Homo sapiens: one gene and its partner. The protein of the gene in region 1 purifies or fractionates together with the protein of each later gene. This does not show direct contact. Each region holds a gene or a part of one and is shown on either strand. Other genes may lie near its edges. The genes, in order: CER1 and NGLY1.

Region 1 (15,977 bases):
CTAGGACATTTGTGTTCAACATGTGTTTTCAGTTCTCAGAGGAATCCACATGACTAAGGGAGTCCTTTCTAAAACCCCAGGACATCTTGCTTTCAGATGTGATCAATGATACACAAATCTCATTCTAAAGAGAGATAAATTAGGGAATAGTTTTTCACTTGACAGAAAGGATGATCCTATTTGCTTTGTTAATGGATTGGACTTGGGTGATATTTTCTATTGCCCAAAGAGCATAGCTCCTCCATGGAGCCATATTTTCAAAACTTCCTTTTACATTCAGCATTGAAAGAACACATTTGTTGCATATATTGAGGAGGACTGTTTGCAAATCATGCCCCAAATCAACATTTGAAGGTCTAAGTGCTGCTCATCAGAGAGAAAGGTGGTTCAGCGTATGTGGGAGTCAGTAAGGATTCAGGGCAGAAGCTACACAGAATGGCCCAGCAGGGACTGGCTCCCAGTAAATTATTTTCTTGCTTATAGATTTCCTACCCAGTAGAATCACTGAGGTGATTTTAGTGACTAGACACAAATAACAGGCTTCTTAGAGTTTAAGATTTGAACCAAGTTGAACTTTTGCGAATGTGACTAAGGCCTGCCAGCTTGATGGCAAACCTGGGCCCAGCATCAGGTACAACAGAAGGCAAACCCTGACCGGAAAATTGTGCTTTGCTTTTCATTTTATTGTCACAATTTTTCACAGTTTGCCTCATGCCACCTTGTTACTTAATTCCCACACCTCGGAGGAAAAATGTGTAATCTTTTAATATTTATGTTACTTAAGATACTTAAGATTATGTTTCTGCCTAGGTGTTGCCAAGATAGTCAAGCCAACTCTTGTGTATAGAGGGTAGAAAATATAAATCTGTCTAAACTCTTTCATGAAGTGAAGGTCTTAATATTTCCGAAGAGTTGAATTTGGTACTACTCTTGGAGAGCCTTAGAGAAGCGTTGTCAATACAAGGCGTCATTGTTTTAGGTTTCCTATCCATGACTTGCTTTTTTCCCCAACTTTCCTCTCTTTTGGCAACTTCTCCTCACATTCTGTCCTACATTTGGCCCTGAGTCAGTTGAAAGCTTTGCAAGTTGATTTTCCATTCCCATCTGAATTTTAGCTTAGCTGTGGAACTGTTTTCCATGTGTTTTTAATCATTTGTCCATGTGTTATGAGCTTATAGGGACAATATGGTTCCCCCAAGCTGCCTGCATTGTATAAGCAGAAACTGGCAAGGTGGCCAGTGGGGGAACAGTTTTCAGACAGATGCCCCCTACACTCATTTCTGTTGGTGATACACCACCCCCATGCTCCAACTGGAGTAAAACAATTTACAAGCTGCATAAAGTTACCCAACAGACATATAGTCCTCTGGCATGAATTACCTTTTTTAGGAGTGTGATTATCCTTCAGGGGAGACATGCCTGGGAACTGTGGCTGGTGTGACAATGTTCTAAGGCCTGCTCTGAGACTGTGGCCAGGCTGGGAAATGAAGAATGGTTTAGTCCCAGATTCCATGGAAATTTGATTTTAAAATAGAATCTAAACACAGAGAATTAAGTATAAGTTATCCAGGACAAAGCGATACTTCTTAGAAAGTAAAACACAACAAGGGCCTATGTCAGAAGTTTCCTTTCGCATTTTTATTGGACTCAGTATGTCAAAACAAACATCCATTCACCTCCTAAATGTAGACTGAGGGACCAGGAATGGAAAAGAAACAGAAAAATGCATTAAACAAAATCCCTTTTCTCAAAGTTGCTGACAATGTAGTCTCCAGCAAACATAATCCCTGCCCTTGAGGATCCTCTCTTCCTTGTTAGAAAGATATGCATGTACCCAAATTAAGACAAGCCCGAGGAATCACCGAATAGCCGAATCAAGAAGGAACTTGGCTTTTCAGAGTCCCAAATACATCTCAGTGACATGGAGGAGATGTCTCCCTTGTAAATCCAGAAGTGGATGTGAGAAAGTAGAGGTTGGATTGGGAGAAAGCTTGCCAATATTTGACTGGAAAACGCAGAAGACAACACTGAAGTACAGAACCTGAAAACTTCTATGGAATCAAGAAAATTTGAAATGATCAAACATTATATAAAAGCATCCAGTGGAGTGCAAAAGTTTGACCATTCAGGGTAGACTATGGAGTAAAGTGGTTGGAAAGGATGTGATTCCAACAGCAGTGTGGAAAGGAGAAACGAACTGGTGTGGTTTGATGGTCAAATGTAAGGAGACTCACTTATCTGATGGGTTCTATCTTTCTCTGCAGAAAAAGGGGTCATCTATCAAAAACGAGGAAAGAGGCAGAGCAGTCAAAGGTTTTAGGTAATTAGAGAAGATTTTCACTAACCCACATGGAAAATGAAAAGTGAGTTGAATAGAGGAATGAGAAGGATTGGTGAGCAGAGTTGAGGGTTCCGTTGAGACAGAAGGAAATTTGTATAGAATCCATTTTTGCCCATTTTGTCTGTGTCTCTAAAAGCACTCCCTATCCCAGGCGTGGGCCCAGTTAAGATGAACAGCTGGGTGTTTTCAGGGTTGGACTTTTTGTTGTTGTTGTTGTTTTAGAAAGACTCTCGCCCTGTCGCACAGGCTGGAGTGCAGTGGCACAATCTCGGCTCACTGCAGCCTCAGCCTCCTGGGCTCAAGCGATTCTCATGCCTCACCCTCCCAAGTGGCCAGGATTACAGGCGGGCTCCACTGTGCCTGGCTAATTTTTGTATTTTTAGTAGAGACAGGGTTTCACCATGTTGGCCAGGCTGGTCTCGAAGTCCTGAACTCAGGTGATCCGCCTCCCTCGGTCTCCCAAAGTGCTGGGATGACAGGCGTGAGTCACCACGTCCGGGCCCAGTGTTGGACTTTTATTAGATGTGTGTGAGAGAATAAAAAAGGGACTAGGGAAAATATTGCAAAAGTTTGAAGTGATGGACCATGGAATTAAAGTGGGATAGGGAAGAAAATGAAGACAAAGAATTTATATATGTTAATCAATTAATTACATTATTCATTTATTATTACATGAATATTTTAGGGCATTTACTATGTGAAAGGCTGTGCTACAGCCTGAGCTGATGACTAAAAAGACCCCACTTTTATGGACTTTAAAATCTGGGCCGGGCGCGGTGGCTCACGCCTGTGATCCCAGCACTTTGGGAGGCCAAGACGGGTAGATCACAAGGTCAGGAGATCAAGACCATCCTGGCTAACACGGTGCAACCTCGTCTCTACTAAAAATACAAAAAAATTAGCCGGGCGTGGTGGCAGGCGCCTGTAGTCCCAACTACTCGGGAGGCTGAGGCAGGCGAATGGCGTGAATCCTGGAGGCGGAGCTTGCAGTGAGCCGAGATTGCACCGCTGCACTCCAGCCTGGGCAACAGAGCGAGACTCTGTCTCAAAAAAAAAAAAAAAAAAATCTTAAGTGGAGGCAGATGTTAAATGTTCAGTCAAAAATTATTTCATGACAAAGGTGGTAGTACTATGATAGAGATAAAGTACGGGACAGATGCTGTAGGAACTGAAACAACACAATATTGTTATGAGAGAGTGGAATGTGAATTCACAGTTTAGAGGTAGAGCTGTTCTTGATAGTAACAGGGGTCAGAATGTAATCGGGGTAGGGAGGCCAATTGGCATGAGAGCAGTCAGATTTCAGCCAGGGTATCGAATGGGACTTCCATGGGATACTGATGAAATGCTAATGGTCAAACCCAACCACATGGACACTGAAGTCACCCAGGATGATAGTAAGATTCAGGGTGAAAAGAAGGACCGTGGACTAAATGAGGAAGACAGGGCAAGTAATATTGCCTCTACAGACATTCAGGGACATAAAGTTAAGTGCCTGATGCCATAGAGTTTACAAGCTGTAATGCAGTTCGAGGAATCAGATTTAGTTTTTTTGGCCTCAAGTCCAGAGATAGTTCCACTGACATTACTTAGCTCTGAGATCAGCTTTCTACAGAAGGAAAAACAGACAAGGTAAATTTTAAAGATGAGGAAGAAGGAGCAGGACAGAGATGTTGCATCAGTGACTGCATCCTGAACTGGCTCTAAGTATAGGCACAGGCATTGGAGATGGATGGACAGGTAGGAAGGTGGGGCACATGGTGAGGGACAGCTCAGGCTGCCTTGGCCTAATTCTCAGATTTGCAGGAGCCCTCTCTGCAGTCTTGGTAGGGAGATGATTAGACACATGTAGATATTGTCCATGACTTGTGCACAGTAGTAGATACATCTTCAGATGCAAAAAACAAAATACCCAGAATACAGAAAACTATTTCTCAATGGTGTTGGAGGGTGTTTTGAACAGAGGGCAGTGAGATCACCGAAACTACAAACAGAATAATCTAATCTTTAAAAGACAATCTAACCATCAGTGCCTTGAAGTGGAAATGGGGATTTTTTTGTTGGCAGTTACACCATTTGATATTTGTCCTTTTCCACTGGTCACACATTTTGGTATCTTTGGGTGACAGTTTTAAAAGATTGAATAAAGAAACTGATAATAATGGTTCTCTCCATGGCAAGGACAGGCAGCCTGGGGTGGAGTCAGAGGAAGATCAACCTTTCGTTGTGCATTTTTTTGTGTGTTATTTGAATTTTGTTACTATGCGTATTTATTACCTACTCAAAAATAAAAGAAATGTACTGCACCATGTCTACAGTGCTTCCTTGAATTCAACAAATATTTATTATTGAATAAAATTAGCACAAATAAAGCATACAGTTCACTGCATCTTTGGGATTTGGCTCTACTTGAAAGTCCCTGATTAGTACAGGAATGATGCCTGCCTAAATTTTGTTTCTTTCTTTCTTTCTTTTTTTTTTTTTGAGATGAAGTCTCCCTTTGTCGCCCAGGCTAGAGTGCAGTGGCATGATCTTGGCTCACTGCAACCTCCACTTCCCAAGTTCAAGCAATTCTCCTGCCTCAGGCTCCAAAGCAGCTGGGATTACAGGCACCAGCCACCATGCCCAGCTAATTTTTGTATTTTTAGTGGAGACAGGATTTCACCATGTTAGCCAGGCTGGTCTCGAACTCTGGACCTCAGGTGATCTGCCCACCTTCGCCTCCCAAAGTGCTGGGATTACAGGCATGAGCCACCATGCCTGGCCTAAATTTTCCCTGTAAAACTTATTTTGAATATACTAGGCTGTCCCTATAGATTGCAAAATCCACTAGACCTGAAACTGAACAAAGACACTCTCAACACTTATCTCCAGTTCCTAGAACAGAGCTGGCACTCAGGTGTGCGCTGTAAGAATGAAAGAATTAGTCCAGTTAAAGGAGCAGCTTCAGGGAATGGGGCTCTTCCTCACGTGTCTTTTCCATGGAAAGGGGAGGAGGGAGTGTACATTTTGAATAATTAAGTAAATTGTTTATTTAAAAGTTTAAGGGGAAATCATATATCCTAATTTTCCCTTTTCCTTGTTCCTTGGAAAATAAGAAAAAAGGTCCTGTTTTCTTCTGAGTTAAAAAAAAAATAATCTAACCTGCCATGACATGATTGCTATTCTGTATTTTGAAAAGAGAGGTAGTGATGAGGCAGTGGCATGCTCCCCAGTCAGATTTCTCTCCTGAATCCTTCAACCCAAATGTCCTTTTCCAGCTCTCAGTTGTCCTGTTTAACTGTAATGTCCACCCCCCACCTCAACACTGCCTCTCACCTTTTGTTGATTTAAGATAGGTTTTTAGGGAAGAACTTAGTCTCTCTGTTCGCCCTTGGAGAGCACTGGGCTTCTTTTTAACTGTCTTCTGAGAGTCTGTAAGAGGGACAGAAAATGTAGCTGTTGCTGTCCTCTCATAGGCACACTGGGGAGGTCTGAAAAGGAGACAAACCACCTCAACGTGTCTTGAGCGGCTGGGTCTCATGGGCCTCTTTTCTTGTCCATTTTATAAAAGTGTCACCAGCATATGAAAACATTTTTTATTTAAGTATCTTCTCGAGGTCTTTAGAGTTCCTGAAGACATCTTAGTGCCTAAGAAACCCAAGTCAAGTTGAAAACAGTCAGATTCTGCTGAAAGCCTGAACTGTAAATGGAAATGAATGGATTCTGGGATTGGCCCCTCTGGTTCTCATGCATGTCTAGGGTTGGCCCAGGAAGTGGACTTAGGAGGCTTGGGCTCACTCACATGAACTCAGGCTCACCCTTCACTGTGGCATTTGGTACTAAGTGCACTAATAATTGGCGATGCTGTCTCCTCATGAAAGCTTCCTACTGGGTCTGGAGACCTCCTGCAGACCTACTTCCATTTCCATTTGGTTCATCCAAATTGGGAGGTAACTAGATGCCTGTATCAACTGAAGACCAACAGAGGCAGCATATTTTTGCTGAAAGCTACAAAATCTTCACTTATTTTCTTAAGAGATTATAATGTATTACATTATACATATATTACATGTTATACATACATAATTATACACACATAATTATACACACACAGTGTATCAATGGCTTTAGAATTGGTGAATGGACACGATAGTGAAAGGTGATAGTCATTGCCTTTAGCTGAAAAAGGCAGAGGTTGGAGATAGGCTTGTTTCATAGTTCTCATCACAGAAGGCTTGGCTTTGCTAGATTTACTTTTCACGGATAGTATTTACTAATGGGAGTAGGGAGAATATTTCAAGATATTTGCACATTTTCTCAAAAGAAGTGACAGAACAGCAAAAGGATATTCTCTGTGAGTGATTTTTAAATGGCACTTATAAGCCCCAAATTAGGATCAGAGGAAGGGAAGTTTAGGACTAAAGGAAAGTGAAAAATGGATAACTGACATCCCTATAGATGATTTTATACAATAAAGTTAGATGATGCATAAGAAATCCCACTAGACTATCTAACCTACTTGAGGGCAGGGACAAAGTTTTACTCATTTTTCAATTATCTACCAGTATCTAATATGATTCTTAACACACAAAGTGAGTCTTCTACACATTGCAGTTCAACAGGAATTATCTCAACTGTATCTCATGTTCAGTAATTCCAGAGCCAAGCAAACTGAGACCCGAGATAGAATTTCTGAGATTGTCTTTAGTTTTGGGAAATAGTAGATACTCTGATTGATAACAATGGAATTTCAGTTACTGAAAAGTAACAGTTAAAAGGATTCAGGAAAGGTATCACAGCTGGCTTCCACACCATATTATACCAGGAGGCCTAGTGACTAGCTCTGGAAAGCGTATAGCATTGGATGGCTGAGGGGAATTAAGAAATTCAAGTAGCAGTCAATTAAAAAAAAAAAGATGTTGACATAGCATGGTGGCTCACGCCTGTAATCCCAGCACTTTGGGAGGCAGAGGCAAGATGGTGGCTCAAGGCTAAGAGTTTCAGAGCAGCTTGGGCAACAGAGTGAGGCTCTGTTTCAACAACAACACAAAATTTTAAATAGCCAGGTGTGGTAGTGTGCCTGTAGTCCCAGCTACTCAGGAGGCTTGCTTGAGCCTAGGAGTTTGAGGTTACAGAGTGCTATGATTGCACCACTGCACTCCAGACTGGGCAACAGAGCAGAACCCTTTTCCTAAAATAAAAAAAAACAATGGCAAATACACATGCTTATTTATTATATATCAACAGCACCTTTCATTAATACTAGCACACGTTCCATAGATATTTGGTACAAGTACAATATATCTCCACTCATGGCATTCTGGTAAAGTGATGGTCCATGTTAAAAATAGCTCATTATCATGGGTAAAGGGACTTACTTAAGGCTTTATTTCATAGAAATCAGGCATGGCTATCAAGAAGAACAGAAATGCCTGGAAAACAGACTCCAGTGGGTCACTTCTTGGAAAGAAAGTTTAATCAGTATTGACAAAAAAGGGGGAACATGTTCCAGGACTATTTGTGTTATTGAAAGCAAGGAATATAGTGATTGAATTAAAAGGGGAGAAATAAAAGCAGATATTGCATTGCTTCCCAGTGGAAATACTGTTTGAATCATGTGGTAGGCTGATCGGACTCTATTCTGGGGTTTCAGTTTTCTGGACGTGTTTCTTTTTCGTATCCTAGGCTGATTCATGATAGTTTTGAATGATAGTTATTTTTCAATTTTTCCTTTGATCCCCGAAGACTCTTATTTGTGTCAATCTTTATTTAGCCTGGCCATCAATTAGTGTAAAACAAGGGGAGATGATGTGGATTCAATAAGGTAAGAAACTGACTAGCCAGCGTCACACACAAAGTTATCAAACCTGGTTCTTAGAATCCACGTTCTCATGTCTGGCTCTTTGTTCAAAGGGAAAAAAAAATCAATAGGATGGCTGGAGGGAGACATTTCCCTATCCTCATTGAAGACTGATGAGCTGTCAGTCTATTACGTGGTATCCTGTTGAGGAACATGTGAACAATTGGAAGAGTTTATCTGATGACTGACCAGTTGTGAAATTTAGCACCCATTAATTGATTCTTAATGTGAGAGGATTAACTTGGGAATTGTGAGTTTCTACGTGTGGAAAGGAAAACATATTCCCTTTACTCAGTTACTGTGCAAAAATCAATAACCCCAATTTGCATGTAAGTAAGAAACAATATGTCCCTTGCTCAAAAAAATTAACATCCTTCTAGCTCTTCCTTTCTTCTCCTTACAACTTTGATATACTTCTTCGTGTGTGTGTGTGTGTGTGTGTGTGTGTGTGTGTGTGTGTGTGTGTGAATAGCCTTCCTAAAGGCCTGGGCTTTTTCTAAATGTATGCCTTTAATTTTTATCCAAAAACTTCTCTTACAGCAACATGTCTTGTCTATTCTATTCCAGCACAAGGCAGATGCACAGCAAATGTGAGCTGACTCTAGTCCTTCTTCTGAAAACAGCCATGGGAAATTTAGGCAAAGAATGTGTTGTCTTTGCTAATACTGCTCTTTAAGCCCCAGACATAGCTAAACTCTTAGCTAATTACCCCCTGGGTCCCAGGCTTTCACTGGGGCCTTTTAAAATACACAAAACCAAAGTGACGGCAGGAGGCCATTAGCACTACATAATTCAAGCAAACAATAAATGTGTTTATTCTGCCTGGCTACTGACCACCTGCCTTCCCATCCCGCCAGGCAGGTATCTATATATACGATTTCCTTTTTCCCAGTCCTGCAGAGAATGAGCCTCTCCTTTGGGCCTCATCATTTACAAAAGAAGCTTGGGCCCCTGACAGCATGCATCTCCTCTTATTTCAGCTGCTGGTACTCCTGCCTCTAGGAAAGACCACACGGCACCAGGATGGCCGCCAGAATCAGAGTTCTCTTTCCCCCGTACTCCTGCCAAGGAATCAAAGAGAGCTTCCCACAGGCAACCATGAGGAAGCTGAGGAGAAGCCAGATCTGTTTGTCGCAGTGCCACACCTTGTAGCCACCAGCCCTGCAGGGGAAGGCCAGAGGCAGAGAGAGAAGATGCTGTCCAGATTTGGCAGGTTCTGGAAGAAGCCTGAGAGAGAAATGCATCCATCCAGGGACTCAGATAGTGAGCCCTTCCCACCTGGGACCCAGTCCCTCATCCAGCCGATAGATGGAATGAAAATGGAGAAATCTCCTCTTCGGGAAGAAGCCAAGAAATTCTGGCACCACTTCATGTTCAGAAAAACTCCGGCTTCTCAGGGGGTCATCTTGCCCATCAAAAGCCATGAAGTACATTGGGAGACCTGCAGGACAGTGCCCTTCAGCCAGGTATGTGTTCTGGGGGGAGAGCAGGTAAGAGTTTGCAGGTGGTAGTGGACAGCTGGGATGGATGGAGAGTAGGGGAAAAGGCTGTCAGGAGCCTGACTCTAGCTTAACTACAGATTTGGTCCTTGGGCATTCATCATAGGATTTGGCAAAGATTAAGTTTCCTTCTGGCCTTTCCATTTTTTCTTGGCATTGTGGAAATGCTGCAAGAATGATATGATGATACTGTCAATATCAGTAATCATTCATTCACACTGAAGACACAGAGCTCTGTTTTATTTATTTATTTTTGCATTGGAGGTGATCTACTCAGAGATATAAGTCAGACTGTACCCTCAGTTAGGAAACTGAGAATTTAGAGTAATCACCAGAACTCCTCTGTAGCTATCTTTCTGCACTCTATTAATATGTGGATGAGCAGGTCAACTCCATTTGTTGATAAAGTGGGGTGCATTGGACTCCTTCCCAAATACTCTCATATCCATTTACGATGGTCTTAATCCCCATAGTCCATACTTAATTACTTTATAGGTTTATGAGGGACTTCTTTAATAGCTTGCTAAAGCTATCCCACAACCTCAAAGTACGTTGAGGTTCTCAGGCAAAAGTTGTCATATCATTTCTAGTATTATGATAGCAAAAAAGTGATTTTCTTTCACTTATTTTCTCATATGAGCTTTTTAAAAAATCAATCTTGATGTGAGATCATATCTCCTCCCCTTAGAAGTACCTTTCTCCTGATTCATGTTGTGTTGGCTGATTTGTAGTTATTATGATCAATTCCATGCTATTAAGACAAAGGGACATCCTACTGTCTACTTCCTCTGGCAATATCTACATTCCAAATGTTAAATTAAAATTGAGAACTTGCATTAGGTCCTTAAACATGAAGATATTGAACCAAAAACATGCAGGGTAGAGTAAAATTTTATAGTCGAGTAATGCTACCCAATTAAGCAAGCAATAGAATAGGGCAATTGACTGTTCAAGGCAGTTAAGTATTCTGCCTGAAAAGGCAAGGATATGTAGCAATGGCAAGTCAATTATCAAATAATAATGACTACTCTGTTGGCCATGTGCAATTAGAAAATTACCCCTAAGAATCAGGCAATCAAATTTCTTTTGAAATTCTTCTTTTGAATTCTATTGCTAATTAAATTAAAACTAAGATGTTTGACTCTTACATATTTTGAAAGGCATATAAAGCTAGGTGCTTGGAGTTATGAGAGGTAAAGGTGATGTAATATACAATGATTTGCAGGCATATGCATTGTAACTCTGCTTGCATACAACTTCATAGACTTGAATGTACTACAGGTCTTGCAGAATAGGATAGAATTAAACCTAGAATGTTCTGATCTATTCTACGATCAATGTAACAAATATGTATTGGGAGCCTACTATGCACAAAGCCCTGTGAGGAATAAAAAAGTAAGGCACATTACTTATGTAAGATAATTACCATTAGAATTTTTCAATCGCTCACATCCAATTAGACAAAATTGCTTAAGGTTTTGCACGAATAATGTAGAGTAAAATATTTTTTATGTTAACTTAGGGATTCCCTAAAGGCTGTTTAATAATTTACTCAATAAAGAAAATTTAATTGAGGTGGTTCTGTGCCCTTATAGATACCATCACTTGCATATTGCAAATTGTATCCAAAATTGGAAAGCTTTGAAATTTTTAAATTATCCTCAGATTTACAGTCCATAGCTTCTGCATTATGTGTGTTAAAGAAATAATTCAAAATAACGTAATGGAAATGTGTTTGCTTTTTAGACTATAACCCACGAAGGCTGTGAAAAAGTAGTTGTTCAGAACAACCTTTGCTTTGGGAAATGCGGGTCTGTTCATTTTCCTGGAGCCGCGCAGCACTCCCATACCTCCTGCTCTCACTGTTTGCCTGCCAAGTTCACCACGATGCACTTGCCACTGAACTGCACTGAACTTTCCTCCGTGATCAAGGTGGTGATGCTGGTGGAGGAGTGCCAGTGCAAGGTGAAGACGGAGCATGAAGATGGACACATCCTACATGCTGGCTCCCAGGATTCCTTTATCCCAGGAGTTTCAGCTTGAAGAGCTATCCCACTATTACCTTTGAAAAGCAAAACCACAACAGCAAAGATGCTGATTATTCAGTCTGAAAATGTTAAGTGGGTACATAACATTTTCAGGGAAAGGTGACTTGAAACGTAGTTTTAAATTAGAACGATAGAGGAAATGATATTAGTCTAGTTATTGGTACACGTTTGAGACCTTGTCTCAGCTCTGCCACTAACTAGCCGTAGAATGTTAAGTTGTAAAACCTTTCTCCATCTAAAGATTTTCATCTATAAATGACGGACCCGACCTAGATGATTGCTAAAATCCTTTCCACTACTAATATTCCGTGATGCATTTTCTCCAAGTTTGGGTAAAAGCCCTCCATCTAAAGAAGGAAAAGAAATAAGCGAGACCATAAAAATGGGCTTCTTTAATGTGTGTCAAATCACCAGCAAGCAAAGAAGCAAGATAGAGAGGGAGGAAGGAAGGAAGGAAGGAAGGAAAGAAGGAAGGAAGGAAGGAAGGAAGGAAGGAAGGAAGGAAGGAAGGAAGGAAGGAAGGCAGGCAGGCAGGCAGGCAGGCAGGCAGGCAGGCACGCAGGCAGGCAGGGAGGCAGGCTACGTGAAATATTTGTAGGAAAGATTCTCATACTTATAGTTACTTTTGCAACCCAAACAGTGTTTTACTTGACTTCTATCTGATGATTAAGTCTTTCCACAGATGTAAGGAGTAACTTGCTTGGTTGCCTCCTTTTTAACAATACTCCTCATATAAAGTACTTAATGTCAGGTCTCTGACTTTGAAGAAGGAACAGTGATGTTAATTTTAGTAGTTTATATAGGGAAGAGGAACAATCACTGGTAGCCAAACAAGTACCTATATTATGAGGAAGGAAAAATACATGACTACTACCAGGTTTAGAGATCAATCCAGAGATGCTAATGAAAGTAACCCCCAAAAATTCAATCTTCAGGCAAAATTATTTACTCACATGCATTTTGAATTAGGTAGTAAGGTTTCTATGTTTGAATGACTGTTTTTTGCTATTTAATAAAACTTTGTATTATAAATTTTATTCAGCAAGTACCAAAATTACAGGTTCTGAAAATATTCTGGATATTTTAATGCATTAAATTTTAGTATATGAAGCATTCTGAAAAATGTTCTTATATTTTTCCCTTACTTGTTTTGTCTCATAATTTAAAGGTACTATCAGGAGATAACCTAGCTGGAAGCATTTCTGGAATGTCTTCATAGACTTATGACACTGGACCAAGGGTTTCTTCTGATCTGTAAGCAGCCTTCTGTTTAAGTCTCTCAATCACCTCTCTCCTGTCTGTGTTAATTTTTACACATATATGGTACAGAACTGCCTTTTCCCAGCCAGACTGCTTTTTCTATTAAGTTATTCAAATTTTTGTTCCTAAAAATTATTTTAATAATTAGGTTTCTTTTACTTTTAGTGCACACACATACACACATTTCCCAGAATAACTGTTTTTTTTAAATAAATCAATTTATATTTTAATTCTATTCCTCTTTAATCACACCATCTAACATGACATTCCAAAGAAGCAAAGGCATTTATATTTAGTGTATATTTTGTAACACATCAACATGAATGTGAGTTACACAGATGCACACATGGCATTTACATTGGAATATATTATCATACCCTTTGGTGGTCAAAGGCAACCTAGCTGGCCAAGATATGCTCATAAGGATAAAATTGTTAAGCATTAATGATATCTCAGCTGGTCAATATATTTTGGTGCCAAAAGCTATCAAACAGCTGTCATGATTGCAATCGCCTAACCCTGATTATGAAAACCTATCTCTGCCAATTGGACTGTCCTTCTCCTCCTTACATGCTTGTAAATCCGTTTCATCCATCCTTGCAAATAGACTCTCAAGCCCAAACCCCAAACAATGATCTGTTTTATTCAAATTTTGGTCTGCGCTTCCCTTGCATGTAAATTCTAGATGGGATAGTTGATAGTGGTATCAAACCTTACATTTATAGAATAATTGCATGAAATTCAACAAAATTGCTCATATTCAATCATTTTTACTTACAAAAAAGGCAATTTACAAAGGTTGAACATAATATGTAAGACTGTAAGAAACCAAGAGGAAAAACACAAATATTGAACATTTATTAAGTGCCAGATACTGTGCTGTCTTTTACAAGAAGTTAACAATTTAATCCTCACAAAAACTATATAAAGTAGGTTATCACTGTATTTTATGGGTAAGAAAAGCAAGCCTTTAAAAGTTTCAGAATTTGCCTAAGAGCATTTGGAGAATATTTTCTATTTTGGATTAAAATATTTGCTCATTTGTTCTTTGTCAGTTTATATTGAACTCTTCCAGGTCTCTTGCCTATAGGCTTCAAAGCAAATTTCTTTTTACCACTTACCTAGCTCTCCTATCTGAAGGATTTTGATGTTATATCTCAAAAGAGAAATCATCTCTAGGTCAGGTTATCGGCCAAATATTTCCTTGACTCCGTTGGTCCTCATGGCACACCTCTTCATAAATCCTGGTCTCATTTTCCTCTCATATAAAATAAGGCTGGTAATAATTACCTCAAAATTATTGTGATGATCAAGTGTACATAACAACACTTCAGAGAACTTTAGATCCTGTAAAACTACAAGGGATTAATTTATTCTTTTCCGTTCAGACCTTCTATTTTTTAAATTTGTTTTGAGAAATTGAAAACACACGGAAAAGCGCAAATAATAATATAACACTGAAATTCATATAAACGAAATAAATAGTTACTATTTTGTCATCTTTTGCTTCTAGTCTTCTTTTAAATAAGCCATTTCAGATATAAGTAAAGTTCCTTCTGACCACAATACTGAGTCTTATTCCCTAAGCTTTTGCCTACAAAACACCACACCACTAAAAATTCCTGCTTATACTTTCAATTCCCTTCTATATTTTTGCTAATTTATATATACTTCCATAAACAATATGTAGTATTATTTTTTATATGCACTACTTTAGTCAGCATGTATTTATTTGTCCATCAACTATGTACGAGATACAGCTCTAGGTGCCATGAATACAAAAAGGGAACAAGTCAGACAAGATCACTGCTCCTATAGAGCTTACATTCTATTGGGGGAGATATGTAATTTGAAAATCAATCAATTCATCAATCAATCAATTCAAAAAGAAAAATATCAGATGGCTATAAGTGGTATGCAAATAATTAAAATATGCTAGAGATTGATTAGATTAAGTGGTCTCTGAGACGGTGACATTAAAGCTATGTGTTTTGAATTATGTACATGATATTCTCTATTAATTGTTCTATAATGGCATTTTTCACCACACATAATTCTTGTTTGTTTTTACAAAGTTTTGAGAGGTTTTTTTCCCATCTATATTTTATCTCCATTCTAGAAATTAAGTATTCCTTACAGAGAGTAGCTAACCTAGCTTTGATTTTCTCAATCTGCGCAATTTCTTTGACCTGTCAGTTTAATTCCTAAATAAGACTTTTATTTATCCTCTGAATTTTTACAGATAATTTAATTTATTCTATGCAAGACACTGTGCTAAGAACCTTGGGATATTCCAAGATAAATAAGACACATTTCCTGCCACGCTGGAGCTTACAATGTAGTAGCAGAGATAATGTATGCAAATTTTAAGGCAATGATAATAGTACATTTATAAGGACTACTAATTATTGAGTTCTTACTATGTGCTCAGATGCTTTATATTTGTTATCTCCTAGAAGTGGATATTTTCTACTCATTTTTTTTGACAAGGAGAATGAGAGTTGGAGGGGTTCATTCATTCAGTCCACAAATAGTTATGAATGTCTATGATGAGCCTGGTCACTGTGCTGGGGACAAAGAATATGAATAAATGAGTAGAGGATTATCTAAATATAATCCCTGACTTTAAGAATCCTACTGTCCAGGAACAAGTAACTGCATGTTTTTGCTACTTGTTTACTCTTCCATATATTCTAGAATGATGATCTCTCCATCACACCCTACCCCCAGTCTCAAACACCACTATCCCAGTGAAGCCTTCTTTAACCCTCAGACAAGTTTGGGTTCACGTCTAACATGATTTCATGACACTGAAACCTTTGTTTTATAGCACTCATATCAGCTTGTAATTATATCTTTATTCTGGCCATCATTAATTAAATTATAAGGTCCATGAAAACAGGTATCATATTGCAGGAGGTTTCTTTCAGGATTGTAATCAGTGTCTGGAAGGGGCCAGCACACAGTAGGTACTCAATAAATATTTT
Region 2 (15,236 bases), on another chromosome or scaffold:
TTTGAATGAGATGGAAACCCATTGGAGGGTTTTTTAAGTCACATAATCTGGCCTGTACTTTTAAGAAGATTACTCTAGCTGCTGCATGGTAGGCACTAGACTGAGAAGGAGAATGACAGTCCTCTGTTTCTAAAACTTTGTTTTTAATGTAACTAATTCATGAATATCTTCCTGTTGGAAAGCTTTCATATTATATGGGAAACGCCAAACTCTCCCTGCCATTCAGTTCTGTTCTTTTTCATGTCTTGTCCTGGATATTTATACCTTAAATAATTATCTATAAAAATAGTTTAAGTTGTGTGGGGTTTATTTAAAATTTATCATCTCATATATATTCAGCTCCTTGGTGTTTTTCATTTACAAATATGTATTGGACAGCTTTTTAACTCCATAGTGTTTGATTGTACATACACTATTATTTATACAATTCCCTATTGATGGACATAGAGGTTGTTTCCATTTTCTCTGTTCTAAATGCCACCACAGTGGAGATTCTTGTAAACCATGTCTCCTGGCACACATGCACAAGTATTTCTCTTGGATAGATACTGAAATGTCAAGTGTGTGTAATACTTTTATATTATAATGGATCCTGCCAAATTGCCTTCCAATTTATACTAGAAGTGTCTAAGAATATTTGTTTCCACTTAATGAAAGTATTGAATTTCTTTTATGGACTTTGTGAATTTTTCTAGTGGGTTTCTTAATGTTCTTACTGATTTATAGAAGTTCTTTATGTATTTAGAAATTTATCTTTTTGAGACAGAGTTTTGCTGTTGTCGCCCAGATTGGAGTGCAGTGGCGCGATCTCGGCTCACTGCAACCTCCGCCTCCCAGGTTCAAGTGATTCTCCTGCCTCAGCTTCCTGAGTAGCTGGGATTACAGGTACCTGCCACCACGCCCGGCTAATTTTTTTTTTCTTTTGTATTTTTAGTAGAGACGGGGTTTCACCATGTTGGGCAGGCTGTTCTCCAACTCCTGACCTCAAGTGATCCTCCCACCTCAGCCTCCTAAAGTGCTGGGATTATAGGCGTGAGCCACCGTGCCCGTCCAGAAATTTATCTTTTCTTTGTTAGACATGTTACAAATTTTTCCTCCCAGAGTTCTTTAGTGTAGCTTTTGAAATTCAAAAGTTTTTATTTTTAACATAAGAAAATTTAATTTTTTTATTATTGATTTTACAGTTTGTATCTTGCTTGCCTAAGACCTTCCTAACCCAAAGTCATAAACATAAACATACTCACCTATAAACTTCTATTATTTTATATTATTCCAGAGAAAGTTTTTTTTTAATGAACTATAGTAGGGATCTGATAGATAGCTATTTGTCCTAATATCATTTATTGAAACAGTCCATCCTGTTAGAGCTGCTTTAAAATGCTAACTTTATTAAATACTGTGCATTTGCTTAGAAATCTGTCTTTCAGAATTCTTTTGTTTCATTGATCTGTTTATTCTTCACTAATACCACATTGTTTTAAATATTAGAGTTTTATAATATGTCTTGATACACGGTAGGCAAATTTACCTTATGATTCTTGCTCAAAGTTGTGTTGGCTATTTTGTGCATTTTCTCTTTCACATGGGATTTTGTAGTTAGCTTGTCAATTTTTTTTTTTTTTTTTTTTTTAATGAGACAGAGTTTCGCTCTGTCACTCAGGCTGGAGTGCAATGGCATGATCTTGGCTCACTGCAACCTCTGCATCCCAGGTTCAGGTGATTCTCCCGCCTCAGCCTCCCAAGTAGCTGGGATCACAGGCACCTACCACCAAACCCAGAAAATTTTTGTAGTTTTTAGTAGAGACGAAGTTTCACCATGTTGGCCAGGCTGGTCTCGAACTCCTGACCTCAGATGATCTGCCTACCTTGGCCTCCCAAAGTGCTGGGATTAGAGCTGTGAGCCGCCACACCTGGCTAGCTTGTCAAATTTTATGAAAAAATATTTTATAATTTTAATTGGGATTATATTAAATTATAGATTAATTTGTGGAAGGTTATCAGCTTTAGAAATATTGAGTTTTCCCTCCAGGAACATAAATATTTCTGGCCTTTTTACATTCTCTGTAGTTTTTTTTTCTGTAGTTTTTTATTTTGAAATACATCAAACATAAATACAAGAACAAAGTATAATATATCATATACCTATGACCAACATCAAGCTTTATTAGATTTTATCATTATGCTATATATGTCCTTCATATTTATGTTTTATTATCACTCTGTTTTAATCATAAAACATTAAAGATAGAGATGAGAACCCCCTATATATGTTTTTAAGATTGATTTTCCCTCTCCTTCCCTTCTTGCCAGAGATACCATGGTCTTGAATATGAACAAGAGAGATCTGTTTATGGAAAAGTGGGTATATTATCTGTCATGTTATAACTTACTAGGGTTGTTATATATACTAGAGATATGGTTGTGTTTTTATGTGTTTGGGGATGAGTATCCATGGATGGATTATATTGTACAGTTGAAGCCCTAATAGAAAGGCTAATAGGATGATTTTTTAAATGTCTGGAATTCTGTGATTTCTGCCTTTTGTGATTGTTTCATGTTTACTTGTGTATATACCTGATAACAAATTCAATGTTTCCCATTTTTAAATGTTTTTCAAAATCAAATTTATTTTTCTACCTCCCTTGTACTTCAGGATCAATTCCTAACTGACTATAGTTCCCTAAGAGGTCATTGTGTTCAGCTCACTTGTTAATGCATAATGTCAGTTAGAGGATATAAAATGGTAAATGTTCTACTGTTTTTAATGTGCAGTTATACTTGTCATTGTATTTCAGCCTAGTGCCTAATAAATGACAGTTTCTTCTTGCCTCTTATTAGTGAAAACCTTAAAATCATCTTATGTTTTCATATTTTTCAGGTTCGTATTTGAGAATAAATATGTTTGGATAGTTTAAATTTTGTCAGTTTTAGCTCTTACTTGGTCCTCCCTTAATTTCTCAGGTATCAATATAAGTGATGAGGATTTTCTTTTGCTGGAGCTTTTGCACTGGTTTAAGGAAGAATTTTTTCACTGGGTGAATAACGTTTTGTGCAGCAAATGTGGTGGACAGACTAGGTCTAGAGATAGATCATTACTGCCCAGTGATGATGAGCTGAAGTGGGGTGCAAAGGAAGTGGAAGATCATTACTGTGATGCCTGCCAGTTCAGCAATCGATTCCCAAGGTGGGTGCCCTGGATGGTAAAATCAGAATAATCTCTTAATGAAATAGTTAGAAGAGAGTTTTTACTAAATGAACTTTTTAATATTTAATTATCAGAAATATATTCCTCTAAAATACCGGTGAGCAAACCGTGGCTGGCAGGCTAAATCCAGCCGACATCCTGTTTTTGTAAGTAAAGTTTTATTAGAACATAACCATGCTGATTTATTTGCTTATGGTCTGTTTTTATGCTGCAACAAGCAGAGTTGAATAATGGTGACAGAAATGATATGACCCACAAAGTCTGAAATATTCACCATCTGTCTTTTATAGGAAATTTGTTGACTCTTGTTCTAAAGTATAACTTGAGTATAGTCATAACATGTTTAATGCTATAAATCTTGTATTACTTTTTTAATTCCTAATTTTTAACTGTCTGATAGCTAACAATACTTATAATAATGCTGAGGTATACTTTTACCTTCCATATTATCATCGGATGATTATTTTAAACACATAATTGTATTCACTCTCACAATAATCAGCATTATTATTATCAGTCTTATTAGCAGAAGTTTGTTTTAGTTAGGTGCTTCCCCTGCCCAACCTAACCTACTCCTCATATCTCTAAATTTTAAACTAAGGACATTTTAAATTTTAAATTAATTTCCATTCTTTAATTTATAAGCCTGTTTTCAGATTTTCTGAATTGGCAATGTTTATAAAGTCTGGTTGTATTATCAGTCAAGGAAAGATACCACGTTTTAAAAATATCTAATTTTTTTTAGCTTAGGACATAGTTTCTAATCATGTGCTTGTTTTAACCTCTAGCTCTTCTCTATATGGGGAGGCTGAGGCAGGAGGATTGCTTGAACCTGGGAGGCAGAGGTTGCAGTGATCCAAGATTGTGCCACTGCGCTCCAGCCTGGGCGACAGAGTGAGACTTGAGACTTTGTCTCAAAAAAAAAAAAAATTTAATTACCTAAGTTATAAATTCATTTATTTAGCTTAAGAAATGCTTGGTTAAGCATTTGCTTAACAGACTTGTCATCGCAGAGCCCATTCATTTATGCCACTGTTTCCTTTCCTTCCAAAGCACGTGGCTGACCTCTCTGCTCAGCTGCAGCACTTTTCCTGCTCAGCTCTATCAGTTCAAAACCCATCTCAACACAAAATGCAAAATTTAGTGTTCTTGAATTGTCTGGTAATTTTATAATTGGAGTAACTTCTGAAAAGAATGTTACAAATAGATCCCAAAAAACAACTTCCAAATTAGCAGGCACCTTTAAATACTTCAAAAGAGTAAAATTTTAATCAAAATGATTATTAGAAAGAAAGATAATATTTTAGATAAAATTGAATTAAACTAAGCTAAAATTTTTGTTGAGTAATTTGTTAAAGTTGTTTACCTTTTAAATACAGTGAGCTAGCTATACCACTTTAGTGCTAATGCTTTAGGCAAATTGCCTAGAGAATTTGCTTCTCCAAATCTTACATTATTCAAAACACAGATCAAATAAAAGCTCTCCTCACCAGCCACTTTCTGACCTGTTGTATTGTTTGATCACTAATCTGACCTGTTGTATTGTTTGATCACATTCTGCCATATATTTAAATTATTTGTGTTCATCCCTTTCCTCAGGATTGTGAACACCTTGAAAGCAGTACTACCGTTTAATTATTTTTCACCAAATGTTCTAACATTGTGCCTCATATATTCTAGATTTCTAAATAAATATTTAAAAACAAATTAAAGGCCGGGCGCAGTGGCTCACACCTGTAATCTCAGCACTTTGGGAGGCTGAGGCGGGCGAATCACGAGGTCAGGAGATCGAGACCATCCTGGCTAACATGGTGAAACCCCGTCTCTACTGAAAATACAAACAAAATTAGCCAGACCTGGTGGCATGCACCTGTAGTCACAGATACTCTGGAGGCTGAGGCAGGAGAATCACTTGAACCTGGGAGGCGGAGGTTGCAGTGAGCCGAGATTGCGCCACTGCACTCCAGCCTGGGTGACAGAGCAAGACTCCGTCTCAAAAAAAAAAAAAAAATTAAACATTTCTGTTTAGCATAGAGGTAATGTAAATTCTCTTAAAAATCTTGATTTTGATAATTAAGGTTTTTTTTCTTTTTAAACCAGATATAATAACCCTGAGAAACTTTTGGAAACAAGATGTGGACGGTGTGGCGAGTGGGCCAATTGTTTTACACTGTGCTGCCGAGCTGTAGGGTTTGAAGCTCGCTATGTTTGGGATTACACAGGTACAGAATGTGGAATGAGCAGAGGGTAGTAGGGCTTTGCAGGCTTGCAGGTTTGGGTTTACATTCTGAGCCCATGATTCTCTGTTACTTTTTGGCCTTGTCAGTCTGACCTTCCATTTGCCTTGTGTAAAACAGTAATAATACCAACCTTCCAGGTTTTTTGAAGGGATCACAAGAGTTTTGTAAAACACCTAGCACTGTGCCTGGTGCTTTGCACTATAAATATTCCTTTTTTTCCCCTTTATTTTTTTATTGATGCATAATAGATGTACATATTTGGGGGATACTTGTAATGCATTTATATAAATTCTACAGAGCAAATCAGTATTATTGGGATGTCTGAGATCTTAAATATTTGTCTTTATGCTGGAAACATTTGAATTACTCTCTTCTAGCTATTATGAAATATGCAGTGGATTATTGTAAACTGTAAACACCCTATTGATCTATCAAACACTAGGTCTTGTTTCTTTTATTAGCAATTTACCGTGGCATTTATAGTGATGCTGTTTATATATGGATAAAAACATGTAATAATGTACCATAGAAATCTTCATTGCTATAGGGATTACTGTAAAAAATTTAGTAAACTATAAACTTAAAGCACAGTATACAGAAATAATAAAAGTCATGTGATATTTGTGTTGTCCCTATTTAGAAATAACTTGTGTGGTCTACATGTTAAAAAGTTGTTTTCCTTGTGTTTCCATTTTCTAAAGAATTAAATGAAACCTTCCATTAATAGTTAGTGTTCTCTTAAAATCAAATATAAAGCATGTATTGACCAGAGATTCTATTAGACTTCCTGCTGGTTCTGGGCCTTAAAGTCCAGAGAGAGAGACTGTAGTTTCAAAAGTGGCATTAACTCCTTCATGATAGTAAACTCAGGATGATATTTTTTATGCTGCTCTTTAATATGTCTACCTTCTTAAGAGTTACAGCGCACATTAAGCCTAAAACTGACCACGTTAAAGGAGATTGGAAAAACATTTTTAAGGATTTCAAAGAGACAGAAATTAATACAGGTATTCTAAAATCCTGTGTGCCACAAAATGCACTTATTAACTGAAATTCAGAATATTATGCATTACTTTATGATTCTTAGGAGTTTGTGTATAGTTATTGAAAGTCATTCTGATTTCATTGTCTTTTTTCCATTGCTCTCTTTTCTCTTACTTGAGTAGACCATGTCTGGACAGAAGTCTATTCTCCTTCTCAGCAGCGGTGGCTGCACTGTGATGCATGTGAAGATGTCTGTGACAAGCCACTCCTTTATGAAATAGGATGGGGCAAGAAGCTTTCCTATGTCATAGCATTTTCAAAAGATGAGGTAGAGCATAAAAGAAAAAAACTTTTTTCCAAAAGTAAAATATATTTTTTTCTTTTATGACAGCTTCATGAATGTATAATTAACATACAATAACCTGCATATATTTAAATTGTACAGTTTGATAAGTTTTATTTGTATACACTGAAATCATCACTGCAAATCAGTATTCATTGTATGGATGTGCCATAGTTTACCATTTCACCTGTTGATGGCTATTTGGGTAGTTCCCAGTTTTTTTCACAATTTCAAATTAAGCTGCCATGAACACTCAGGCACACAAGTCTTTATATGGGCATATGCTGCCTTTTCTCTTTGCTTAATGCCTAGGAGTAGAATGGCTGCATTATATGGTAGATATACATACAACTTTTTAAGAAACCACTAAACTATTTTCCAACGTGGTTGTGCCATTTTACATTTTCGCAAGCAGTATGTAAGTTTCCAGTTTCTCCATGTCCTTGCTAACATTTAGTATGATCTGACTTTTTAATTTTATCCCCTTTAATAGGTGTGTAGTGGCATTTCATTATGGTTTTTATTTGTACTTCCCTAATGACAAATAATACTGAGCATCTTTTTATGTGTTTGCTTACCATCCATATGTCCCCTTTGCTTATTTTTTTTAATTGGGTATTGTGTTTTCTTACTGTTTGGTTTTGAGAGTTCTTTATATATTCTTATATAAGTCCATTATCAGATATGTGCTTTGCAAAGATTTTTCTCCCTATCTGTAGTTTGTCTTTTTATGCTCTTAATGATTTTTGAAGAGAAGAAACTGGCGTTCAGTTTACCAATTGGTTGTTTTATGGATTGTGCTTTTTGATGTTATATTTAAGAAATTTTGCCTAGCCCTTGGTCACAATGATTTTCTCCTATGTTTTGTTTTAGAAGTTTTTTTTGGTTTTATGCTTATGTCTGCAATCCATTTTGAGTTAATTTTTTTATATGATCCAAGGTGTATGAAGTTTTTTTTTACATATGGATAATGAATTGTTCTAGCACCATTTATTGAAAAGATTATTTTTTCTCCATTGAATTGTCTTTCCACTTGTATCAAAAATCAGTTCTGTAATATAAATCTAATACAATAAAAATGGATAAAATTTTTATTTGTTGAATTTTGTGGAATCAGCTTTGCAGATAAATTTTAAAAAGGTAATGTTTTGAAATTTTCACTTTTTTATCATAGCGTTTCTGGTTAAACTATCAACTGTTTAGGAATGAATAAGTGACGTATTCTCTTCCGTTTATTTTATAGGCTTTTACGTTTTATTTTATTTTATTTTAATTTTTCGAGACAGTCTCACCCTCTTGCCCAGGCTGGAGTGCAGTTGCATGATCCCAGCTCACTGCAACCTCTGCCTCCCAAGTTCAAGCGATTCTCCTGCCTCAGCCTCCTGAGTAACTGGGATTACAAGCACATGCCACCACACCTGGCTAATTTTTTTTGTTTGTTTTTTTTCAGTAGAGACGGGGTTTCACCATGTTGGCCAGGCTGGTCTCCAACTCCTGACCTCAGGTGATCTGCTCACCTCAGCCTCCCAAAGTGCTGAGATTACAGGCATGAGCCACTGCACCAGGCCCCATGACTTTTAAATTTTAAACAAAGGATAGTATTCTAAAAATTGCATTTAAGGCTGGGCGTGGTGGCTCATGCTTATAATCCCAGCACTTTGGGAGGCCAAGGTGGGTGGATCACCTGAGGTCAGGAGTTCGAGACCAGCCTAGCCAACATGGTGAAACCCCATCTCTACTTAAAACAATACAAAAATCAGCCAGGCGTGATGGTGCATGCCTATAGTCCCAGCTACTCAGGAGGCTGAGATACGAGAATCTCTTGACCCTGGGAAGTGAGACTGCAGTGAGCTGAGATCACGCCACTGCACTCTAGCCTGGACAACAGAGCGAGACTTCGTCTCCAAAAAAATGCATTTAAAAATTACATACATTCTAGGTATTTAGTAAGTAAAGGTTGATGGTTGTAATCTTGTTAAGTATTTGTATTCTGTTATTTGTTTCAGGTAGTTGATGTCACTTGGCGATATTCCTGCAAACATGAAGAGGTGATTGCCAGAAGAACTAAGGTTAAAGAAGCATTACTTCGAGACACTATTAATGGGCTTAATAAGCAGGTATGGTGTGGCTATCTTTTTTGAAAGAACAGTTGACATTTTTTATGTAATCGAGAATAGCCGTTTATTAGCCTATTGAAATTCTTAAAGTAGTAGCATTGTTTTATAAACAAGAATATTTTAATATTCTTTTTGAATATTAAAGAATAAAAATATTCTTTTTGTTCATTGAAAATTTTGCGGACTCATTTTAAATATTATGAGTTATTTTGGATTAAACTGTCTCATTTCAAAGTTCTTTGAAACAAAATTTCAGTATTGGTAGTACCTGACAAAAAATGTGTTGTCTTATTTATCAGTGTAACTGTGCCTTGGATATGACACAGACTCATATTTATGTATTATGTATGTACATACACACACACACACACACACACACACACACACACACACACACACACACACGTCCATGTGAGGAAATTTCTGAAGCAAGGCACAGGAAGTTATTAACAATGACTACTTCTGAGAGGAGGAACTGGAGTTCCAAGATGAAAGGTTCAATTTTTGTTTTATACCCCTTTGATAGTATTGAAATTTTTAACTCTATACATGTGGGTTTTTTTCATAAATTAAAAAATAAGCAGTGAATTTTGCTGTAGCAGGCAGTTAGAACAGGGCAGAGCACATTAATCCAATCAGTGATAATGATTCCAGGTGAGGTTTCAGTCTATTTTGAATCTGCACTTACTCCTGATGTGTAGCCCTTCGGAGATCTCTACCTGAAAACCTGGATTATTTGCTAGATCCCCTTGCATTAGAACACTCTGACCCTCAGTTTATTTTTACCCCAGCACTGTGATTCTGCTAAAAATTCTGCTTTGATTTCCAGCACTTTAGTCACTATTTTGTCCTTGGCTTCTCAGCCTCTTCTCATGCCACTTAATAATTGACAAATGACTGGAAGGGAAAAGAGGTGCAGTATGTGCCCTTCACCTCAATTCTTTTCTTCTCTTGGAATCTTGACTTCTCAAGTTCTGGCTGCCTTTACAGCTTTCTGTTGCACTCAAACAGGTGTTTATATGTGAGTGTTCTGTTTGTGTGTTTCCACTAGCTTTTCTAGCTTTTCTCAGTAAGACATTCTGACACAAGCCAGTCTATCATATCCAGAAACAGAAGTTGCTACCTTCATTATAAATAAATCTAGGACAGTAGAGCTCATGGAGAGTTGGAAATAGGTGTTAAATGATTTCCCAACATAAAATTTATAAAATTATTTAAGTTTTCCACAGTGTCCTTTTTATTTTCTGAATAATATATGTTTGAAAATAAAATTCAGTACTTGTTTCAAGACCTCTTAAAATGCAAGTGTTTTAAGTATATTCTTGCTTAGAGATGGACCTATACATTCCCCTAATCTTAACAACTTTTTTAAAAAACATGAATTACAGAGGCAACTGTTTTTGTCAGAAAACAGAAGGAAAGAACTTCTCCAGAGGATAATTGTGGAGCTTGTTGAATTTATATCTCCCAAAACCCCTAAACCTGGAGAACTTGGGGGAAGAATATCTGGGTCAGTGGCTTGGAGAGTAGCCCGAGGTGAAATGGGTCTACAGGTATTTAATTCATTCTAGCATGATGATCCTTTTACTTTCCTGCTTCATATACTATGCTCTTCCTATACTATCCTCCAACTGCATTGACTATGACCTTTCAGTTAACTTGAGAGTAATTATTTTAAAATGCAAACATTTGAAGAGAACCAGTAATTGATTTACATAGCATTATCGTGTAAGAGTTAGCAAAGCATTTTTAAAATGGGACTTAAAATTTTTTTTACCTTATGTAAATTTTTAGTGCAGTGTAACTTTTACTGAAGAATATACAGGAAAATGCACAAATTATAAATGTACAGCTTAATGAATGTTTACAAATTTAACACCCATGTAATCGCCAACCAGAATAAGAAATAGATCACTGGAACCGTAGAAACAAGCGTGAGTTTCTTTCCCCACTGCCTTACACCCTCGAAAGTAATCATTATTCTGGCTTCTAACATCATATATTAGTTTTGCCTGTTATTGTGCTTTATAAAATGGAATCATATAGCATGTACTGTTTTGTATATAGCTTGTTTTGTGTAACTTTGTGTCAGTGAGATACATGTTGCAACGTGTATGGTATGTTCTCATTGCTGTATAATTTATTGTATGAATGTAATTTTTCACTGTTGATGGCTATTTGGGTTATTTCTAGTTTTGGCTGATATAAATGGTGCTGCTCTGAACATTTATATTCACGTTTTCAGTGAATATGTTTAGGCATTTTGTTGGATGTATACCTAGGAGTGGAATTGCTAGGTAATAGAGTATGAGTATATTCAGCTTTAGTACATATTGCCAAACAGTTTTTCAAAATGGTTATGCCAGCTTATACTCTCACCAGCAGTATATGAAGTTTTTCGACATCTTTGTGTACACTTGGTATTGTCTATCTTTTCATTTTAGCAGTTCTGGTGGCGTATAGTAGTATCGTGATTTTAATTTGCATTTTGGTGATGACTAATTATGGTGAATGCCTGTTCTTTAAACTTTTGGATATCCTCATTCTCTTTTGTGAAGTGCTTATTTAGGTCTTTTAAAATGAGATTCTAATGCATTTAAAAGAATGCTGTTTTACGTTTTTCCTCTCCAGATGAAAACTTTATGGAGTGGAGAAAATACAGAATTTGGGGAATTCAGCTGATGAAAGTGTTTATTTCTTGGTATATGCTTGCATATATCTGATATTGGCTAGAAATTGTTGGTGGCATGATTACTGTTATATTAAAATTTATTTTAAGATACCACATGATTAATCTTCCAAAATTAAATAACAATGGAAATATAATTTCCATAGGTAGGTCCTAAAGTTAAGGGACTAGGTAAAAATCAGTGTGCTAGGCTTTGTAACAGGCATTAGGGCAGTATAATAGACTGTCCTTTGCCCTTAGGGAGCTAAAGTTGAGTCACTGGAGAGCATTTAATAAAATGTTTAGGAAATATGCAATGAAAAATGCTTGAAAGAAAAATAACTCATCACAATATCAGTATCAAGCAGTTCCAAACAAATTAAAGTTGTATTTATCTACTTTTTCTAAATTTGCCATTGTTACAGTTCATTTCTCTAGTAACAGAATATGTTTTAAAGGAGTGAATTATCACTAATAAATTTTATGTTTGCTTTTTAATTTATCCCATCGTCTGTAGCGGGCAGTTAAAAGTGTTGGTTCAGCCATAGGATTACAAGATCCAAATTCAACAAATAATTCAAATCACTGCCAATGCAGTGTGTTACAAGTATAAATCTAAATACAGCCAGTTAAAAAGAGCTAATTTAATTCGCAGCTGTGTTCAATTTAAAACATGGATATTATTTAGGTCTTCATTTCTTTTTATGCATGGGTGTGCTATCTCTTGCATGGCATGGAAGTTGATTAACTTTAAAAATATGAATTGGGTTGCATACCACATTGTTTTCCCTTTTGAAATTTTTTTTAAGTTTCTTAATTGCTGGAGACCATTTTAGGGCCATGGATTTAAAAAGAAATCATTTTTTCCTTTAGAAATGGATGTTTGTTTTAAAAGTAAATAGAAAAACATTAATCCTAAATACTTTTGGAATTAATCTTGCAATCAATTGGAAACAGAAGAAACATTGGTACTATCATTTCCAGAAAGAAAAGTTTTATTTTAATCTTAGAATTAAAATATTTTATAAAATATTAATGTTATTTTGGACTAGAATGCAAAGATTGCCTGGGATTTTAAGGTTAAAATACAAGCTTTTGTAATAATTTTACACATGCAGAAGACTGTTTCATGCTATACCTCTCAGCTGCTCTCCTAGCTTAGGGAACTAGGAAAGGACACTGAGGAAATGGTTGAGGACTCAGGATGAGAAAGAATCCAGTATGTGGAGAGTAGAAAACAGCATCCTAGACAAAGTAAGCAGCATGTGTCAAAGCCGTGAGGCAAAATGAGCTGGACCTTTTTGAGGAACTAAAGGAAAAGTAATGTGATGTGAGTGTAGAAATGAAAGGGAAGAGTAACAGAAGATCTGGCTGGAGAAGCAAGCAGGGTGAACCATCACATAAGGCCCTGGTAGCCGTGGTAAAGAGCTTGGAGTTTAAGTCACTGAAGTGAGTTAAGCAGGAAAGTGACATATCCTAGTTTACATTTTTTGAAAAGTCATTTTCATTGCTATGTGGAGCATGGATAGGAGAGGTAAGAGTTGAAAGCTGGGAGTCAGCTTCAGGAGACAATTGTAGAAGTCCAAGTAGGGGGATAGTGGTGGTGGTAGAAAAGAATAAAAATTAATGAATTCATTGAATGCAAAATCACAAAAATATAAGTCAGAGCTCATACTTCTTGTTTTTCTCTCTAGTAATGTTTAGAGTTATAATAACATCATACTGATTATATTTAATTTATAAAATAATTTCCAAATTTTCCAATGGCACTAATTTTTTCTTTTCAATTTTGAAGGATTCTCTTACCACTCTGCTTAGTAATTTCTCTTTTTTCTTTTTTACATCTTTCATAATGTTGAAAAACTAATTCTGCTTTCTTTTTAAGAGAAAAGAAACCTTGTTTATTCCCTGTGAAAATGAGAAGATTTCTAAACAGCTCCACCTTTGTTACAATATTGTGAAAGATCGTTATGTTCGAGTTTCAAATAACAATCAAACCATTTCTGGATGGGAGAATGGCGTGTGGAAAATGGAATCTATATTCAGAAAAGTTGAAACAGACTGGCACATGGTAACTTAATGCATAAAACCATTTAAAACTTTTGTCATTGTTTAAACAAATATAGATTGGCTTCATTTTTCAGTTGTGTAAAATATGAAAACTGATATATCAAACTTATTTTCAGTAATCCTATAACCTGGAAAAGAAAATTCTGTCCCCAATATGTAATCAAAAGTCCACTAGAAATTCTTGCATTTATATCAAGGAAGTATCTGTTTTCATCAAAGAGGATGAATTTAATTCTTTCATGGGAAAAAATAATCAAATGTATGATCAATCCATATGACTGATTTTTGCATGAACATATATACATATATATTCTATTTGATACTGTATATATAAATACATTATATTGTGAATTAATTCCTTCACAGATGTGTATTGATTGCCCATTAAATACAGGCTATTTAGGGAGTATAATAGATTTAGTTCAAAGTTTCAGAAAGCTAAACATCTAACAGGCATTCACTTCAAAGAATGTGGATGATTGAGCAGCAATATTGGTTATTTCTTCTCTGTATCTTAAAAAAATAATTAAGTAGAGGTTAGGACTATAGCAGTTCATTTATACCAAGTTGCATATTATCGTCACATGCTATCAGTAACAAATAAGAGGCTTTGCTTTAAAACTGCCTGCTCCTTAGAAACACACCAAAATAAACTTAAAGCTATTCACATGACCTCAGTAGATCTGATCATATTCTTGATAGATTTTCATAGGAATTAATTAACTTATAGGAAGCTTTTAAAGTTAATTTACCAAGATACTTGAGTGGGAACTTGTTCACTTGTAAAATATATTGGATAGATTAAAAAAGTGAGTCACATATAAACAGCTGCTAGTGTTTATGAGCATCTGTTACATGCTGTCACTGTACTAGGCATTAATCAAATTACCAAAAACATACAGAGATAAGGTCTCTGCTTTTCTCTTTTTCAATCATAAGTTTTTGTTCAAAAACTTATCTTGCTGCTTAAACATAGAAATACTCCATTTATATCACATTGTCTAATACTAAAAAAGTTGAGGTATTTTTGTATTAGTAACTTACAGGATTATTCTAAATTTTGGAATTTTCTTCTTTAGCTAAAGAAATGCATAAAAATAGAGATAAAATTTAAAATTTCGAGATACCTGTAATTAGTTGTACAGTTGATGAGAGAGGATGAACATCTTCTAGAAGACTATCCTTAGCCTAAGAATTTCTCTGAACAGAAAGCAAGATAGAATAAAAGGGTTTTTTATCGAATGACTAGTCTATACTTGCTAAAATGGAGAAAAATCATGTGTTTCCTCCTAACCAGCAATGTTAGTAAAGTAGTAATGATGGGGAAAATAGTGATGTGTTACAGAAGATGTGATATGCCAAGAAACAGAACTACTGTATGGAGTATTTCTTCTTTGTCTTATACACTCATTTGTTCATCAGCAAACTTGTACTGTTGTGCCAGGCATTATTCTCAGCTACGTAAACAAAAAGATGATTCCTGACCTCACGATCTAAAAGGGGAAGCCAAAGCATAAACCGCCATCTTAACCATGATGCAGAGTGCTATAATAAGGATATCAACACATTGCTATGGAAACAGTGAGGTGGGAGTAATTAGCTTTGGCTG

The links.
Region 2: the proteins of CER1 (region 1) and NGLY1 purify together in Homo sapiens (co-immunoprecipitation; 2 studies listed by BioGRID and IntAct, with this or other methods). This does not show direct contact.

What each region holds. Positions count from the first base shown.
Region 1 is NC_000009.12:14,715,838-14,731,814, reverse strand, and holds CER1 (cerberus precursor), read left to right. Parts: upstream 1-9,081; 5' UTR 9,082-9,142; coding exon 9,143-9,649; intron 9,650-11,428; coding exon 11,429-11,725; 3' UTR 11,726-12,091; downstream 12,092-15,977. UniProt on the Homo sapiens protein: Cytokine that may play a role in anterior neural induction and somite formation during embryogenesis in part through a BMP-inhibitory mechanism. Can regulate Nodal signaling during gastrulation as well as the formation and patterning of the primitive streak.
Region 2 is NC_000003.12:25,727,525-25,742,760, reverse strand, and holds part of NGLY1 (peptide-N(4)-(N-acetyl-beta-glucosaminyl)asparagine amidase), read left to right. Parts: intron 1-2,961; coding exon 2,962-3,184; intron 3,185-5,305; coding exon 5,306-5,427; intron 5,428-6,360; coding exon of another isoform or gene 6,361-6,452; intron 6,453-6,611; coding exon 6,612-6,757; intron 6,758-8,778; coding exon 8,779-8,889; intron 8,890-10,277; coding exon 10,278-10,442; intron 10,443-13,442; coding exon 13,443-13,628; intron 13,629-15,236. UniProt on the Homo sapiens protein: Specifically deglycosylates the denatured form of N-linked glycoproteins in the cytoplasm and assists their proteasome-mediated degradation. Cleaves the beta-aspartyl-glucosamine (GlcNAc) of the glycan and the amide side chain of Asn, converting Asn to Asp.